3 separate regions of the Homo sapiens genome follow, and regions 2 and 3 are each linked to region 1. Evidence: fine-mapped expression QTL. A gene starts in region 1. Each other region holds a variant in brackets. All regions are shown on one strand. Distances are between the middles of the regions. Region 1 holds the start of ITPK1 (inositol-tetrakisphosphate 1-kinase). Region 2 overlaps ITPK1 (inositol-tetrakisphosphate 1-kinase). Region 3 overlaps ITPK1 (inositol-tetrakisphosphate 1-kinase).

What was found. PIP is the estimated chance that this variant, and not a neighbour inherited with it, causes the effect.
Region 2: its variant is fine-mapped to the expression of ITPK1 in thyroid (GTEx, PIP 0.93).
Region 3: its variant is fine-mapped to the expression of ITPK1 in whole blood (TOPMed, PIP above 0.99).

Annotation. Positions count from the first base shown.
Region 1 is chr14:93,113,632-93,118,631 of GRCh38, reverse strand. It overlaps ITPK1 (inositol-tetrakisphosphate 1-kinase), which reads left to right and starts at 2,707. Exons shown (of 11, transcript NM_014216.6): 1 at 2,707-2,860; 2 at 3,327-3,563. The coding sequence starts at 3,469.
Region 2 is chr14:93,089,090-93,094,525 of GRCh38, reverse strand. The region is part of intron 2 of ITPK1 (inositol-tetrakisphosphate 1-kinase); the gene reads left to right. Among named protein-coding and RNA genes, the nearest start is that of ITPK1, 24 kb to the left of the region's middle. RefSeq lists an enhancer at 1,847-2,354. The variant C/A (reference allele first, on the strand shown) is at 2,418.
Region 3 is chr14:93,079,108-93,086,154 of GRCh38, reverse strand. All of the region lies in intron 2 of ITPK1 (inositol-tetrakisphosphate 1-kinase), which reads left to right. Among named protein-coding and RNA genes, the nearest start is that of ITPK1-AS1, 15 kb to the right of the region's middle. RefSeq lists an enhancer at 889-1,512. The variant C/T (reference allele first, on the strand shown) is at 2,491.

The DNA.
Region 1 (5,000 bases):
CTTCATCCAGCTCCTGTTCAGAAGTGACCACACACACACTGTCTTCAGCATCCCTCCCAAGTTCCCCTGGTCCATTTCTCAGGCCTCATCTTCCTGCCCATCTCCATCTTACCGTGCCCTTATTTACGGTGTTCTTCCCTTTTCACCCTCTGAAACTTCGCACCTGTTTTCGCCTTTGCCTGGAATGTTGCCTCCTTCCCCCACTGAACTCCTTCCTACTCATCCTTCAAGATCCTATGCCACAGTCTCCCCAGTCATGCAGCAAAATGGGACAGATTGCCATCTTCCTTCCCATTTCCCTCTCAGCTCTCACCCCACGTTTCCTTTTTTCTTTCTTTTTTTTGTTTTTGAGATGGAGTTTTGCCCTTGCCGCCCAGGCTGGAGTGCAATGGCGCGACCTCGGCTGACCGCAACCTCCGCCTCTCTGGTTCAAGCGATTCTCCTGCCTCAGCCTCCCAAGTAGCTGGGATTACAGGCATGCGCCACCATGCCCACCTAATTTTGTATTTTTAGTAGAGATGGGGTTTCTCCATGTTGGTCAGGCTGGCCTCGAACTCCTGATCTCAGGTGATCCGCCTGCTTCGGCCTCCCAGCGCCCAGCCTCATCCCGTGTTTCTAATCAATGGCTTGTGTCCATTTTCCTCTGCCACACACTGGGCTCTCGTGTGTTTGCCAAAGGAGTGAGGGAATTCCAGGAACCCTCCTGAACCACCCAGCCTCAACTGGTCTTTCAGTTCCTAAGAACAGCAGGACATTTAAAGTCGATGCCTGTAATCCCTACTGCTGACTTCAAGTATCAAGTTTATAGTTGCTGCCCCCATCCCCTTCGTTTTTACTCCCTTAGCCGCCTTCTTTTTTTTTTTTTTTTTTTGAGACGGAGTCTCACTCTGTTGCCCAGGCTAGAGTGCAGTGGCACGATCTCAGCTCACTGCCAGCTCTGCCTCCCAGGTTCACGCCATTCTCCTGCCTTAGCCTCCCAAGTAGCTGGGACTACAGGCGCCCGCCACCACGCCCGGCTAATTTTTTGTATTTTTAGTAGAGACAGGGTTTCACCGTGTTAGCCAGGATGATCTCAATCTCCTGACCTCATGATGTGCCCACCTCGGCCTCCCAAAGTGCTGGGATTACAGGCATGAGCCACCATGCGCAGCCTCCCTTAGCCTTCTTTTATCCATCTTGTGCCTCGGCCCTAGGGGTCCTTGCTATGATCTTCCCTTTATCCAGCTTTCCATGTCCCCCCCAGGAGCCAGGCATTCTAAGCCACAGAGCTGACCCTGGAACCTGTCACCACTTACCTTCTAGGCTCCCATGGCCTATGAAACTCGCAGTACCCTTGCCTAAGGCATGCAGTGCCCGTCCCTAGCTGGCCCCCTGGAGGAGTCCTGTTTCCCACCCATCGTCTTTTCCACTCTCCATCCATCCGTTTTCTCTACCTTGTTAAAGAAAAAAACTAATCAGATTCTCGTTAAAGATGGCAGGGAAGCCAGGCGGGGTGGCTCAGGTCTACAATCCCAGCACTTTGGGAGGCCCAGGTGGGAGGACAGCTTGAGGCCAGGAGTTCGAGACCTGCCTGGGCAACACAGTGTAGTCCCAGCTGCTCGGGAGGCTGAGGTGGGAGGATCAGTTTAGCAGGGGTGTTCGAGGCTGCAGTGAGCTATGACTGCACCATTGCACTCCAGCCTGGGCAGCATAGAGAGATCCTTGTCTTTCTTTTTTTTTTGAGACGGAGTTTCTTAATGTAGGCCGGCCAGGGTGATCACATACCAAGCGTGGAGATATTCTTGACAGCAGGATTCTGGCTAAAACTGGACTAAGAAGGCCAAGGACAGAGCCCAAGGTCGGGGCCTGGTCAGAAAGAGGTCTCGGAGGAGCCTGACTCAAGTGTGATCAAGGGAAGTCTTGGTCACCCGCTGGCAACTTGGCTTTTTCTTGTCTCCCAGCCTCAATTCAAGCTCATCCCCCTTCCCTGCTCCATCAAAATCTCCTTGATTTCCAAGGCCAGCTTCAGTGTCTCCTCTCAAACTTTTCTGAGCCTTCCCTCCACGGGAATCCATTTTTCCTGCCTGGGCCTGGGGAGAGAAGTCCATTTCTCCTTCCCAAACCCAGAGACCATTGAGGCAGGAAAGCTCCCTGGCTGCCCCATAGGGCAGGGCAGGGTAGGCGGGGTTTAGTGACTCCCCGGCGCCGACGCTGACCCGCACCCCTGAGGAAGGGGTCTCCGGGGACGGCCGCTGTTGTCGCTGTCGCCTCCAGTCCCCGCCCCTTCCCCCCTCAGTGAAGGGGACCTAGAGTGAGAACTGGTGGTCACGTCCTACGCCTAGGAGGGCCCCTGGGTGTTCACCCACCCCCCCGGGGGGCCCCATCCTGGGCCAGGGTCCGCTTCCTCGAGGGAAGGGGCGAATTCCTGGAAGGTCTCCTTCCGGGCGCAGTTGCAATGGATTGCCTTGGGGGTGCTGAACCCTGCTGGGGGTACAGAGACGTTTCCGAAACTCAGCGGCTCGGTCGCCCCCAAAGGCCAGGCGGAACACACGCCCACACCGCGGCTCCCTTCCCGAAGTAAGACCGCCGGGCCACGGCCGCCCCCAGGAAGCCCCGCGCCCCGCACCCCACACCCGGGGACACAAACAGGCGCCGGGTAGCCGCGAGGGCCGGCGCGGCGCCTTTAAGAGGCGGCGGGCGGCGCTGCCCCCTGGCGGCCGCCCCGCCGCTTCCTCGCCGCCGCGGGCTCAAGCGGGGCGGCCGGGCCAGCGCGGGGCGGCGGCGGGCAGGGGCGGCGAGTGCGCGGGCGCTCGCCGCCGCCCTTCTCGGCGGGCAGCGCGCGAGGACCAGGCCGAGGAGGAAGTGGCGGCGGCGGCGGCGGGTGAGGATCTCTGGCCGGGCCGAGTGGCCGCGTGCGCCCCGCCGGGGTCCAAGCGCGCCCAGGGGTTACGGCCCGGCTGGGAACATCAGAGGGCGAGGACCCGGGCGGGAGGAGGAGGGAGGAAGGGCTCGGAGGCCGCGCTTCTGCCGCCGCCTGAGGGCGTGTGGCTCGGGCCCGCGCGGCGGGAGGGCGGGCAGGGCGGGGGCGGTGTCTGCGGAGGCCCGGCTTCCCCTCCTGCGGGCCCTGGCCCCAGCTCCGACTCAGACTCAGGCTCAGCCGTGCCCCAGCCTCAGCCGGCAGGCCGGGCGGCGCGGCGCTCGCGAGCCGGTGGGCGGGCGGGCGAGCCCGCAGGCGGCGGGGGCGTGGGCGGTGGCAGCTTGGCCCAGCCAGTGGCCTTCCGCGCTGAGCGCCGCTCCCTCCTCCCGGCCGCCCGCCGCGCCCCGCCCCGCTCCGCTCCGCGCGGCAGGACTGCGCGCCCCAGCTCCGATCCCCGTTCCGCGTCCCCGCCGCCGGGAGGAGGTGCCCACTCGCTCGCGGCGCGCGCCGGCCGCCAGACTCGGCCTGTGGGCGATTTCCTCCGGACCCAGGCTCCCCGCCCGAGGAGGAAGATGCAGACCTTTCTGAAAGGGAAGAGAGTTGGCTACTGGCTGAGCGAGAAGAAAATCAAGAAGCTGAATTTCCAGGCCTTCGCCGAGCTGTGCAGGTAAGGAGGGACGCGGCGCCGGCGCCCGGGGACCCCCGGCCCGAGCCCGGTGACCCCCGGCCCGAGCCCGGTGCAGCCTCATTAGTTGTTTTGGGAGATCGGAGCCAAACGGGAAGAAGCGGCGCGCGGGGAGACTGAGTCCGAGCAGCCAGGTGGCGGTGGCGGCCGCCGGCCGCGTTCCAGGGAAGCGGTGGCCGGTGCGGGCGAGGTGGCACGGACCGGGGCGTTCAGGTGCACTGTGACCCGGCTGGGGAGGCCCCCAGCAGCCCAGGGCGCGGTGGGAGTTCTACTGAGGGTTGCGGAGGGACCTGGGAAATCGGGGCATCCACGCTGTGGGGTAAGGGCTTGAGGGTACTTTTGGACCGGAGTGTTTTTCTTCCTTCGTCCCCTTCCCTTTCATGAAGAAAGGGCACCCACGTTTGTGGACCACCTACTATGTGCCCCGCGTGTGCTCGGCTCTTGAGGCTGTCATTGCATATCATGAGGTTAAGCCCAGTTGAAGCGAGTAGCAATTCTTGGCATGTATGTGGTGATTTGCTGTCTCATTAGAGCCTCGCAGCAGCCCTGCAAATTGGCCAGGGTGGTGATTCTGGGCCACCTGTCTGAGAACGGGGACCGATCGGCAGAGGAGCGGGGTACCTAGCTTGGGGTCCCGCAGCTAGGGAGTGGCTGGTGCGTAGAAAGTGCTGGGTAAATGCCCGTGGTGTGGAGTGGCCTTCTGCCATCTGGGCTGTGTGCCCCTGCTCCCACCATGCTGGTGCTCCTTGGCGGAGTCTCCGGTGTTTAACAGATCACGTTCTTAATAAATTACAGAACTACTGAGTCTTGGGTCAGGTAGGCCTTCCCTTGCTCCACAACTGTAGCTTTGCCTCTGAGAAGCAGTTAAGCCCTTTTCTCAATGCAAGCCTAAGAGAATCTAGCTCTGAAAGCCTTTTGCAAACTCCAGGTGGAAACCTTTTGTGATGCAGCTTGTTAGACTGATTTTTGAAAATGGGCTCTACTTGCATTTTTGTCCCTGTGGGGGCCCCACACATCTTGGAGAATTGAACAGTTGGGTTTCCGTAACCCCTGGTGCTCCTGGGGGCCCGTGGCTGGTCTGAGCTGGCATGCGCAGGTGAGCCTGGCAGCACCTCTGTGTGCCTCATGCCTTTCCCAAGGGCCTGCTGCTCCTTTGCCCCGTGCAAGCCCCGCAGGCGCTCTTCCTGCAGCCAGAGGGGCACAGCTTGTACAGGATAGTGCCTGGTTCTTTATCCCTTGGTCTGGGGATGGGGTTGGCTGCCTTCTCCCAGGCCGGTTTCCCTAGAAGACAGGCTCTTCATGATCAATAGGGCATGCAGAGTGGCCCCAGCAATTCATGAAGAAATCAGGAGGAGCTCGAAGCCAGAGCTTTGAAAATGAGTCTTAGGACCCTTGGAACATTACAAAAGGGTACTTGAA
Region 2 (5,436 bases), 24 kb after region 1:
GCACAGGGCATGCACTGATAAAATGATGGCTTCACCCGGCTCCCAGGGGCCACGTCCAGCTGACAGCTCCTTGGTGACTTAGCTGTATGGGTGGTGTGCAGCTGGCACTGCTTGCTGGTCTGGGGGAGACATCCTAGGCTGGCCTGTGGAGGACGTTCCCTCTCAGCCTCCTCTGAGCCATGGGCATAGGTGAGTTTTCAGAAAAGCCCATACCGACGGTGATTCAGCTCTGCTTCTTGCTTCCTTCTGTCTTATTCTTAAGTCACCCACAGGGCAGCCACCTGCCAGTGTCTGTCCTCCAATCCCCTGCTCCAAGGAACTGCTCTAGGCAGGGAAGAGAGAGGAGGAGGAGGCCCCGCATATCCTCGGGTAGAACGGAGGAGGAAACTGAGGCTCCTCACAGAGGTTAACTAACCTCTGCTAGACCACCCAGGTGTAAGAGCTGGGATGCCCCCAGACCCTCCCTTCTCCCGGGAGCGGTGGAGCCGAGGCGGTGGGGGCCTGGCTGGAGCGCCCCAGGAGCTGAGAGAAGTTTAGTCCACCTGGAGCTTGGCAATCGGGGTGAGGATCCCTTTGAGGCCGGGTTGCACAGGATCCTATAAGCCATCATTGTACACGCTTGGGCTTTGCCCTGAAGGCTGGGGGAGCCATAGCAGTTGTGTGAGGTTGGCTGCTGGGTGGAAGCCAGGGGCTTGTGGGATTGGAGGGGGAGGCTGCTGCGATTGTCCAGGCAGTGGTGGTCTAGATCGTGCAGTGGTGGTGGATATCAACTCTTCAGAGTCCATCCAGGTCTGAGGACTCATTAGCAACCTCGGCTATTCCTCGACTACTCAGGATGTTGTCTGTATGGGGCCGGTGGCCTCAGCACTCCTGGTTCCTCAGCATCGCCACGCCCTCTGTATCCACGGACTCAGAATCTGTGTTTTAACAAGACCCCCAAGAGGTGCCAGTACACACGGCACATTCATGTTTGCAAACACTGGTTTAGGGAACCTGTTGACCTCAGCGCAGGGCTGAGGGGGGAAGAAAGGACTGAGGTCAAGGCCTGACTTCATGAGGAAGGGGAGGTTGGGGAGCGGGGGAAGAGGAGATGATGTCGGAGCACTCAGACTTCTGACTGGGAGGAGGGCTACATCACCCCACGCCAGGGGCGGCTTGAGGACTAGTGCAGTTATAACACAAAGGGCCGAAACGGCCTGGCCGCTGGGGCAGGGCAGAGAGCTGGGCTCCACAGGGCAGCCTGCACACCCCATCTCTGCCCTTGGAGGCCCTAGAACCCTGTGGACCCTGTCCTTTGTCCTTTCTGCCGTGTCCATGTAGGTGTGGGTCGTGTCTGCCCCACAGGTTGGGTATTTGCCGTTGTGCTGTCAGCAGATGGGTGTTGAGCCCATGCAGGCCTGGACTTGGTCACAGAACGGCATCCTGCTTGTTGAGTAGCCATCCTGGTCATGAGGGGTCATGTGGTAATGAGTGTATGGAGAGCTGGGGGCGTCATTGTGAAGACCAAGTGAAGCAGCAGTCGGATCTGGGACAGAGGTTCCTCTAGGGAAAGACTATTATGGTCTGGGGCACCCTGGAGGCACGCGCCGTGGCTGGAGGGTGGGTGAGTCTGTGGCTGGTGGGTTCGGCTGAGGCAGGGGAGTGCGCTCTTCAGCCCAGCCCCCTGGCCTGGGCCCTGCCGTGCTGGAGTCTCCTGGTGCCTGGAGGCTGAGTCGAATGCAGTGGGGCTGGGCAGAGGGTGCCCTGGCTGTCGTGGGGTGGAAGCTTGGCTGACCCAGTGGACATCAGCCAGGACCACATTAGGCCCAGCTTTGGCTGGGTTCCCCACAGCTGTGCCCAACGGCATCCCTGGCCTCCACCTACTGGATGCCAGTACTACTCTCGTCTTCCAAGAATGTCTGCAGGTACTTCCAGATGTCCTCTGGGTGGGGGGTAAAATTGCTCCGTTGAGGGCCAGTGCTGGCTGAGGGTTCTTCATCATTCCCTTCTGGTCCCAGCCTGGCTGCACTGCCACCTGGCGAGCTCTGTTTCCAGGCAGTGGGTCAGGCCTGCTTTGGGGGCTGGCATGCTGTCCTCCCTCACCCATGTCAAGGCCCGTGTAGCCATGTGCTGACATGTGCTTGATGTGACCTGGGAGTCAGAGCGCCTGGCTTCCTGCTCCAGGCTTCCGTGGTGCCGTAAGGACCTCAGGTCTGGGGGTCAGGAGGCCTGGATGGAAAATCCTGGCACTCTGGTCCTTGTAGGGGACCCTGAGCCTCGATTTTGCATCTTTGGCGTGGGGCTGTGGTAGCCTTTCCATGGGTGCTGGTGGAGGCTGCGAATGCCAGTGTGCCCACCCTCCCCATGCTGGGCTTAGCGTGGGTGCCTGGTGACAGTGTGTTAATCTCCCCTTGACTTCTCTGTGACCTCAGATAAGT[C/A]CCTCTCAGTTCTGGGCCTTGCTTATAAAAGGGTTCTTGGGCTCTCTTCTGTGTAAAAAGTGGGGAATGAGGTGGAGAGCCTGGGGGACAGGGGAGTCATGGGGTTGGACACCGTGCCAGAGCCTGTGGTGCTTTAAAATCAAGGCTCAAACCCAGGGTCCTGAAGAGGGCCGAGCAGCAGCTGAGGTCCGAGTGCACCCGGCCTGCCAGTGCTGCCCAGGAGTGGCGCCTCCCGTCATCCCTCACGCCCAGCAAGGACCCAGTGTGACAAGAGCATGGAGTCTGGACCTGGCAGAGCTAGGTTTGCCTCCTTGCTCTTCTATGACTAGCTGCATGGCTCCTGGAGCCTGTCTGAGCTTCAGGTGCCACACCTGAAGACTGAGGTTAAATGGGAGGCGGGGAGGAGCTGGTGACACTGACTGGATGCCACTATGTGCCAGCCTCATTCATTCCACCCTCTGGCAGTGTCCTGAGTTACATGCCCAGCCACCGTGCTATTTTCCAGGCCGGAAAACCGAGGTGTAGAGCCCAGCACTCGGCGTAGGAGGCACACAGCAAGTGAAGCCATCCTTGTTGACATGAGCTGGTTGCTCTTGGCATTTGAGTCTGAATATCAAAGGCCCTGAAGATTAAAAAGAGAGAATGAAGAATGATGTGCCTGGTGCCTTCTTGGGAAGAGCCCGAGGCCAGCTGTGGAGGGGAGCAAGACTGGTTCTGGGCTGGGCTTCCTGGCCTGGTGCTTTCCTGGGCAGCTGGAAGTGCTTCTGTGGGAGCTGTCTGGCCCTGGCGCCGTTGTTGGCTTCATTATTTTTTGCCTGCAGGGGCCTGAGTATTCTGTACTGACGGGAAAACATTTGTTGGGCTGACGCTGTAATCACACCACAAGGGACACTTGAAATTATATCTGTATTTGGGAAGCTAATTTTAAAGAACTTTTTCTCTTCATAATTATATGCAATCAGCCAGCTAGTGTTATTGGGGATTCTCTTTTTCCCTCTTCAGCTGAGAGGCCATCTGCCTTCCTCTTCCTGCCTTTCCTTCCAGCACACGGTGAGCCATCTCCCTGGGAGAGGGACCACTGGCCCTTGGCTGCCTGCAAGCCCCAGGGAAACCTTTCCATGGTGATTGCGGAGGAAGGGATGAGGAGGAAGAGCAGGGGAGGATGATGGGGGCCTCTGGCTTGGCTACAGGATGAGTCCGTTTTCAAGACTGGAGGCGCAGGTTGGTGATGGAAATGATGGAGTGTAGCGTTTCGATTTGGACATTGAAGCAGCCAGGGCTCTTGTGAATGCAAGTGGCAGAAAATCCAATTCAGATGAGTTTAAGCAAAAAGAAAAAAAAAATACATTTCTTGGCCCAGGTAACCAAACTGGCACAGGAATAGTCTTATCCCTCAGGTCCCCAGACATTCCTCCTGTCCCTGGAGTTTTATTCCTCATCAGGAGGAATTTAGTTCCAGAAAACGCTGGCCAAAAAAAGAAAAGAAAAGCCCCCGTTGCCCACCCCCTGCAAATGGGGCTCATTCCTCTCTATCTTGAGCTCTGATCCTGACAAGTAGGGTTTCTCCAGGATGGTGGCTAGCACACCAGTCAGGGATACGGGCTGGACATTTAGGGTTGGCACGAAGTGGACTCTGTGGATTGTCCTTCACACGGGAGGCATTCAGGTCAGGAGAATATACCATGTGCTGGCCCTTCAGGTCTCGATCTGACCACCCTTTCCAACACCCTGGGTTCCTCTGTGTCCTTCCTCTTGGACCGCCCTCTGAGAGGATGGTGCGAGGAAGAGGCTTCCGTGTTGTGCATGGTAGGCAGGGATGGGGGCGTTCCAGGGGCGGACAGCATGGGCAGGTGGTCAGAAGTGTGAAAGAACCGACCTGTGGGGCACGGCAGGAAGCCCGGTGTGCTAGGAACAGATGGGGCGAGACTTGCTGGGTGAGGAGGTGTGCACCTGCTGCAGAGGCCCAAGTGGTGGGGGTGAGGGAAGCCCAGGGGGTGAGTCTGGGCAGGGGCTGGGGGGTGATGAGCCATGTTTCAGATGCAGAAGGTGCAGAGTGTGTGTGCAGGGACAGCAGGGAGACCGCCTGGTGGCCTGCACCGCAGAGCTGTGTGTCTCAGGGAGTGGGAAGCCCTGCCTGTGCTGGCCTCAGTTCTTCCGCTCTTCTGGAATTCTGCATCCTTCTTTTGACATTTCTCTCTAATGCCCAGGGTCCTGGCTCTTGGCTTTGGCTTGGTGGCAGCTGTGACCCCCTGCATGGGGCTCTGAGGGATTATTCCAGCTGTTTGGGGACTGTAGCCATGGCTCCCAGCTGCAGAGCCTGACAGGCCTGGAGGCCGGCAGGAAGAAGATGGGGGCTGTGCCCGCCTGCCGAGAGCTGGCTCTGAGACTGACTCTTGGCACTGGGGTCCTCTGAGGCCCCAGGCTCATTCTCACCTCCTCCAGAGACCCAGCTGACATACCATTCTCATGAGCTGCAGTCCTGTGACCCAGCTGATTTCTGTCTCATTGGTGGAACCCTTTAGAGGTGGGGTAGGGCTCCTAAAACATTAGCCCTACTGCCTTCCCCACAGATTGGCCTCTCTTCCCTGCCTGTGGGCATCTGGCATCTGCTTGAATCCTTCTTGTCACGGGGTGCTCATCACCTCTTGACTGCCTTCCTATGGAAGCCAGCAACCTCTTCCTATGGTTGAGCTGAAATCTACTTCATAGGAAGGGTTCCTTCTGCCTGGAAGGTTTGATATTGGACAGGACTGTCAACCGTGTGGAGAGGGGAGGAACAGGGTGCTGGCTCCCCCGGCTTCTGGGCTGGATTGACCCAGGGCGTGTCTACCCCACAGCATCCTGACATGCCAGAGGCTGGACCTTAGGAAGTGCCTTCCGGGCCCTTCACTGCAGGCCTGCTCAGGGGCTGCTCCTCAGGTCTTGGGGCCCCTGGGGCAATGGCATCCATCCTTTTGGCCTCCTGGGGTCAAGGTTCTGAGGGAGGATTAGGGCAGCAGGTGGTTGGGTGGAGAGGCAG
Region 3 (7,047 bases), 34 kb after region 1:
AAGGGAGGGAAATGTCACGGGAATTTCTGCCTCCCTTCCTGCAGTAGCCTACCTTGCTCATTAGGCTGATACTAAATGACTTTGCATTCTTGGGATTAAGAAGCTGCTGTGAAGAGAACCAACTGAATCATTAGCCCTGAGGCTGGCTGGCTGACGGAGGAGGGGGAGTGGGGGTAGCGGGGAGGGGAGGAGGTGCTAGAACCAAGCCTGCCAGCACCCCCCACTACCTCCCTCTCCCAGCAGCCAACTCCCCTGCTTCCCACAATTTAGGTCCCATCCCTAATTAGGGGAAAGAAAAATTACCGCACCTGCAAGGGGATAGTAAAAGACTCAAAAACAATTTCAAGTCGAGAATTTCCACACTAAAAAGCGGGGATGTCGAGAGCCATTAAGGGAATAGATTTAACGTTTGTGATCAGCAAGAAGTCAGGATGATTCCTGATCTGAAGTGGTGGCCCCTTGGATGTGGCAGAACACTGCCTTGCGTGATCTCCTGCCCTCGCCTCACTTCCTCCTTCCTGAAAATTGAACTGAGGAGGGGAGTCTCAAAGGCACCTCAGTTCCTGTGCTGCTTTCAGCCCCTGCAGCTCTGATGACCTCTCCGGGAGGTGCCAAAGGTGGGTCACCCACTCTGTCTCTCTCTTGTGCCTGTTCACTGGGAAAAGCTGCTTCCAGGCACCCCTGGAAGCTGTTCTGGGTCTGAGGGAGTGTACTGACTCAGGCTGCTGTGCCTGCACTGAGGGGCGCCCGGACTTTGGGGCCGGCCTGCCTCCCCTGGGTGGGGCACCCGGTCGGGGGGAGGGTCTTCAGGTAAGGTGGTTGGTGACTCCCCAGTCAAAGGAAAGATGCCCCCACTCAATAAAAAAGACACATGGCAGCTTCCAGTTTATCTGGTTCTTCCCTAGAGCTGTCCAGACAATTCAAATGTTTGTACTGGCTTTAAAATTCTGTTCGTATGTTGTCTTTATATCGGGCCATTTCAGTTTCTGGCACTGTTAATAGGAGGAAAATCCAAATTACCAAACAATCAGCAAGTAAACCAAGATGCCGCAGGGCAGGCGGGCAGGGGTGACACGGGGCTGGAGCCTGGCCCAGGAACCCGGCAGCACTCGGGGAGTGTTTGCAGAGAGCCTGCCAGGCCCAGGGTCTGCAGGGGGCACAGGGATGCTGAAATAAAGAGCCATCTTTGGCCTCGAGGGGCTCATGGTCTGATGCTGAGCATGGAGCAGGCTTCAGTGGAAGCCATTATTCCTGCCTCTTGATGAGGAAGGCACTTGAGCTGCTCTTGGTGGGTGGGCAGGAGTTTGCCAGCTGAGGAAGGGTGCCTGGCAGGGGGATCAGTTTGTGCAAAGGCAGACTTAGGTCAAGCCTTGGCATTTGGAGATTGGGGTCCCTCCTGGGAGGGTTTGAGAGGCTGCTGCTGCCTCCCCCTCGTGTCTTCTGAGCTGCACCTCCAAATGCCCATGTGGCAGGTGTTTTGCTAAGAATTTGGGGCTGTGGACACAGGGCACAAGCTGTGTCCCTGAAAGAGTGCTTGTTAGTCAGGATAGGCCAGGTTAGGCTGCAGTGACAAGTAGTGTCGAAAGGCTGGCGGAAATAGGTTTACTCACAACTCATTCAGCATGCACTCTGGATCCAGAGACTCTCGGGGGCTGTGGTCTGCCCTGCAGTGGCTCAGTGTGTATCCCACTTCTTAAGTTCAGCACTGTGGACCTTTTGTGCTGGATAATTCTTTGTTTTAGGGGGCTGTCCTCTGCATTACAGGGGCCCTTTCCTCACTGGATTCTAGTAGCACTTTCCTCGGTGTGACAATCAAAAAGCTCTTCAGGTGTTGCTAAATCTCCTTGTGGGGGACACACAGTTGCCCATAGTTGGGAACCAGCGCTAGCTGGAGGTCCTCTTCATCAGTTGTTTCTTTCTGGTTCCCAGCCTGGCTTCGTCGCCACTCAGCCCGCGTTGTTTCCAGGTGGCGGGTCTGGCTGGCTCTGCTGGTGGGTGGCAGCCTCATGTGCTTCCTTGTTTCTGAGGTCAGGGAGGCCTCGGTGCTGGCAGTGGAATGCTTTTTCCAGGAGGGGACATGGTCACCTCTGTTCACATCTCATTGCCCAAGGCAAGTCCTGTGGCCATGCCTGACTGGGGGCAGGGACAACACAGTGGCACTGAGTGTCCAGGAGGGAAATTGCCGGCTTTGATGGCCACCATTGATGTTCACCACCGAGCATTAGCCTGGTGGGGTCAGTGCAATGGAGTCCAGCAGCCTTTCTCTCTGCCCAGTGCTGGGTGTGGGCAGCTTGGGGCAGTGGGGCCTGAGGAGGGTGGGAGCCAAGGCAGGTTTCTCCAGAGGAGCTGACCTGGGGGGTCAGGTGGTGATGTGGGGATGGCATTTGAGGAAGGGAACAGTGTGGCCATCAACACACATGGGTGACGGGGCTTAGTCATCTGTTTAGGAGCCCCAAGTCCTGGGGAGACATCCTGGGCTTCTGTGGGGTA[C/T]GGTGTGGGCCCTGCCCTCTGCAGGCAGGGAAAGGGGACCATAACTTGGGGCTTTTTCCCCAGTGCCTGGTACCTGGAGGTGCCAAAGGGTCTTGTTATTTGGGGTGCCTGAAATCAGTAGTTACTGAACTGTGCCACACGTTGCTTGGATGAGGATGTGCCTGGCTTCCCACTTCCCCGAGTTGTTCTCCGTAGAACCTTCCTCCCTTGCTTCTTCACCATTTCATGTACTTCACTTGCTGCAGCGCTCAGGTCCCCACCCTGCCCTGGGGAGGGCCTCTTGGGTGGGAAAGGTCATATCCTTTTAACGGATATGAAAGCTGAGACCCCGAGCGGCTCAGCAGCACATCCCATGCCTGCTGCTGGTCATGGTCCCTGAGCCTTTTGTGCCCTGCTGTGCTGTGTGGCAGGCCTGCTGCTGGATGGGGTCTGTCATCCCAGAGTGTCTTGTGTTAACCTCCTGACGCCACACCTGGTACTGTGCTGCAGTGGCTTGGTGGTGGCGTGGATGCCGTGGACGTGTCTCTGCTCCTCATCACTCTTTTCTACTTCTGCCCTGATCATCTTTATTGTTTTCCCTTATCATCCCCTCTCCCTCAGTGCTGGGTCATCCAGAGTAATTTTCATCATCTTCAGAAGTGGTAACCACTGTCACTCACAGGGTCCCTGCTGCTCAGCGGCCAGCGACAGAAAGCTTTAGCTGGCTTGAGCAGAAATCTGCAGCTGAAGGTCTAGAGAGGACGAGCCCCACTGCGGCCGGGTCTGGCCGGGGAATTTGCCCTCCTGGAGCCCTCTTGGCCCTTTCTCCTGGTTGGCCTCTGGCTCATCTGGATTCTCGCCACATAGAAGCAATGGTGTCCTCCAGCATTTCCAGGCAGTGCCATTTGTACTGCAGACAGTCCCCCAGGACCCGTCCGGTAAAGGACCAGGACCGGCTTGGCTTGGGTCCTGCTCCCATGCTGCTGCTAAGTGAGGTGACAGGTCATGTGCCCACCCCTGGAGTGGGCGTGCCGCCCCCAGTCATGTGGACTGGAGGAGGCAGTTCTGGAAGGGTAGGAAGGCAGGGTGGCAGGGCAGAGTGCAGGTCACAAGACCCCCATCCCTGGCATGAGCCAGGTACTGTGCCAGGCCTGGACTCTGTTTCCCTTAAAGCCCGTGTGGGATGAGTTCTAGGATTCTCCCATTTTACAGATAAGAAAACAGAGGCACAAGGTACAGGGGGGTCTGGTTCCATGTTCTGCTCTCAGGGGCTCACCCACCTCTTCCGCTCCTGCCTACGCCCCCGAATTGTGTTCATCTAAGCCTCTGAATGCTGCGAAGCTCAGTCCTGGGCTTCTAACCACTTCCTGGCACCACCACGGTTGAAAAGTGGACTGCTGCTGCCTTCTTGCAGTGTTCTCTCGTCTCCTGGGCCTGGCGCAGGGCCTCAGTCTGCTCCTTCCAGACTGTGAGCGTCACAACTATTTCTGGTTCTTAGGTTTCCTTTACCCTTTTCCCAAGACCTGCAAGGGCTGCCCCCCACCCCACCCCTGCTATGTCCTCCCCTAGCAAATCAGATCCTGCTTCCACTGGTCACAGAGAAGCACATGGAGTCGCTCTTGTGGACAAGCAGCTGTCCCCATACCCAGCTGCTCCTGAGCAACACCCGGAGTGCGATGAACCCTGAATCCTTCCCAGGCCCTGCCCTAGGCCTCCTGGATCAGAGGCCTCAGGGTGGGCCTCGAATGAGGATTTTTGACACGCTCCAGTGGTGGTTCTCAGGTTATCTGCCCTGGCATTTGGGACCCACTGGCCCATAGGTAAAGGCTGGGCCACAGGGTGACATCCTGGGCCTCTGAGGCGTGCCCCACCTTTATCCTCTGTCCTGCGTCTCAGCCCCCGCCCCCTGAGAGGGCTTTAAGCTTCCAGAGCCCCAGACACCCTTTGGGGAGGGCGCAGGACTCACCTTACTCCTCTCTAAGTACTCTTCTCAGCACCGGTCTGTAGTTACCCTTCAGTTGCTCTGCCAGATGGCAAATGCTGCCTCCTCTTTGAAGCCTTCCTTTATTGCCAGCCTCCTCCTCTGAAAGGATCGAATCATTTTGTGAGTATTTTCACTTCCTGAAGGGTTCGTGCTCCTTGGACTTCTGGGGACAGGCTTCCCTGTGCAAAGCGGATCATCCCTTTGTTAATAATCCAGCTTTTGGAAAAGCATGTTTATACTTAGCTATTCCTATTTTATTAATATTCATATTAATATATTGTATTTATATATTAGTGTAATATTTATCAATACAATGACAGTTTAGAGCCTGTAAAATTATTCGCAGGTGCAGGTTTTGTGTTTTTTTTGAGACGGCATCTCGCTCTGTTGCCCAGGCTGGAGTGCAGTGGCACGATCTTGGCTCACTGCAACCCCCGCCTCCTGGGTTAAAGCAATTCTCCTGCCTCAGCCTCCCAAGTAGCTGGGATTACAGGCACCTGCTGTTATGCCCAGCTAATTTTTATATTCTTATAGAGACGAGGTTTTACCATGTTGGCCAGGCTGGTCTCGAACTCCTGACCTCAGGTGATTTGGGAGGCCCACCTCGGCCTCCCAAAGTGCTGGGATTACAGGCGTGAGCCACCATGCCCGGCTGCAGGTTTTTAATGAAACTTAAAAATTATTAAATTGTAGGCTGGGTGCAGTGGCTCAGCCTGTAATCCCAGCACTTTTGAGGTCAGGAGTTCAAGACCAGCCTGGCCAACATGGTGAAACCTTGTCTCTACTAAAAATACAAAAATTGGCTGGCATCATGGCAAATGCCTGTAGTCCCAGCTACTCGGGAGGCCGAAGCAGGAGAATTGCTTGAACCCAGGAGGCGGAGGTTGCAGTGAGCTGAGATCATGCCACTGTACTCCAGCCTGGGCGATAGAGCCAGACTCTGTCTCAAAAAAAAAAAATGTAACTTTTATTGTTACTTTCCCTATAGTTTTGAGGGTAGCGTATATGTTCATTGTAGAAAATCTGGAAAACACAGGGAAGTATGAAGGAAAAACCACAGCCCCGTGGCCACAGTTAACACTGCAGCACACGCACCTCAGTCTGTTTTCCAGGTATCGGAATGTTTCCACGGGCTTAGAACCCATAGCGAGTGCTGCAGCCTGGTGGTCCCCACTGCAGGCATCATTTCAGCTCCTCTTTGGGACAGCACTTGGAAGCTTTTCATGATACATCCTGAGCTCTGCTGTCTTGTGTCCTCCATTGATCGATTGCTTCGTGCTTTTATCAAGCATCTATTTAAGAAACAATTAAAAAATATATTTTCCAGTTTTTGATAACATGTTATAGGCACATGGCACAACATTGAAGCAATGTATGAGGGGACACAGTGAAAAGGAAGTCCCTCGGCCACCCCAGCTGCCCTTGCCCTTGACCAGGGGCCCTGCCATGATTGTTTTCCTGTAGCGCCCTCAGGTTCACTCTGTGTGTACACAAGCACACATGCTTGTCCTGGATGTTGTTCTTAACACAGATAATTATCTACAGCACACAGGGTTTTGCATCTTACCTGTTTCACACAGCAACGTCTTGGAGATAATTCCTCGTGGGTGCATGGAGGCCTTCTGTGTTCTTTTTTACTGCTGCATACTATTCCTTTGACTGTGTGTGGTTTGTTAATGTCCCCTCTTGGGGGAAGTTTAATTTGCTGCTAGTGTTTTGCTATCACATACAGTTTGGTAATTAACAGGGCAGAGCCGGAAACATATTGCACACTTGAGCCTGTCTGTGGGGTGATGAGGTGGGATCATGGAGCCAGGGTTTTCAGGAGGAACAGTCACTTGACAACCAATGCTCTGATTTGTGTTCCCTCCTCCTGTCTCCCATGTCCCTTCCTTCTCCCTCTTCCCCTTTGGCTTCATCATTCAATTTCTGAACTTTCTGGTTATGGCAGGACTTTAGGAACTTGCTTCTTGGGGAATCGAGGTTGTTGGTGCCTTTGCTCTGCACGAGTTTCCCAGTGAAAAATGAGCCCCGACAGGTTGTTTTATTTTCCCGAGAGGCTGTGGTGGTGCATGTGGGATTCCACCACCAGAGGGGATGCAGTTTTCCGCTGCCACCTCCTGGTCCTTCCATTGCACTGAGGCCCTGGAGGCTGGAGACCAGGCCTTCCAGCTTGGTGCCACCCTTGCCCACGGTGGTGCACCTGGTGGTGAACACGTGGGTGTGGGGAGAGCCCTGTTCCGGGCCAGCTCCTGCACTTCCTGAGTCTCCCAGGCCTCGGCCTGCTCTGCAGGTAATGGGGTAACCACTGTCCCACCCTCATGAGGCTGCAGAAGGTATTGGTGAGTGGTGAGCTTCAAGGGGTGTGTAGCATACGTGGGTGGCCCCCTCTTTTCTGCCACTGTTGCAACTTATCCTTTTTTTGGAGCTCTGAGCGACAGAGGAACTGCTGTGGCTCCTGGGAGATCAACCCCACTTAAGATTGCAGCCGATCTTTTCTCTAGATTACTTTTTTGTTGCTTTCTTATTTTATGTGTTCCATCTGTTTTCAGTGAGAGACTGTTTTTTTAGGACTAAGGGAGGGAGAGCTGCCT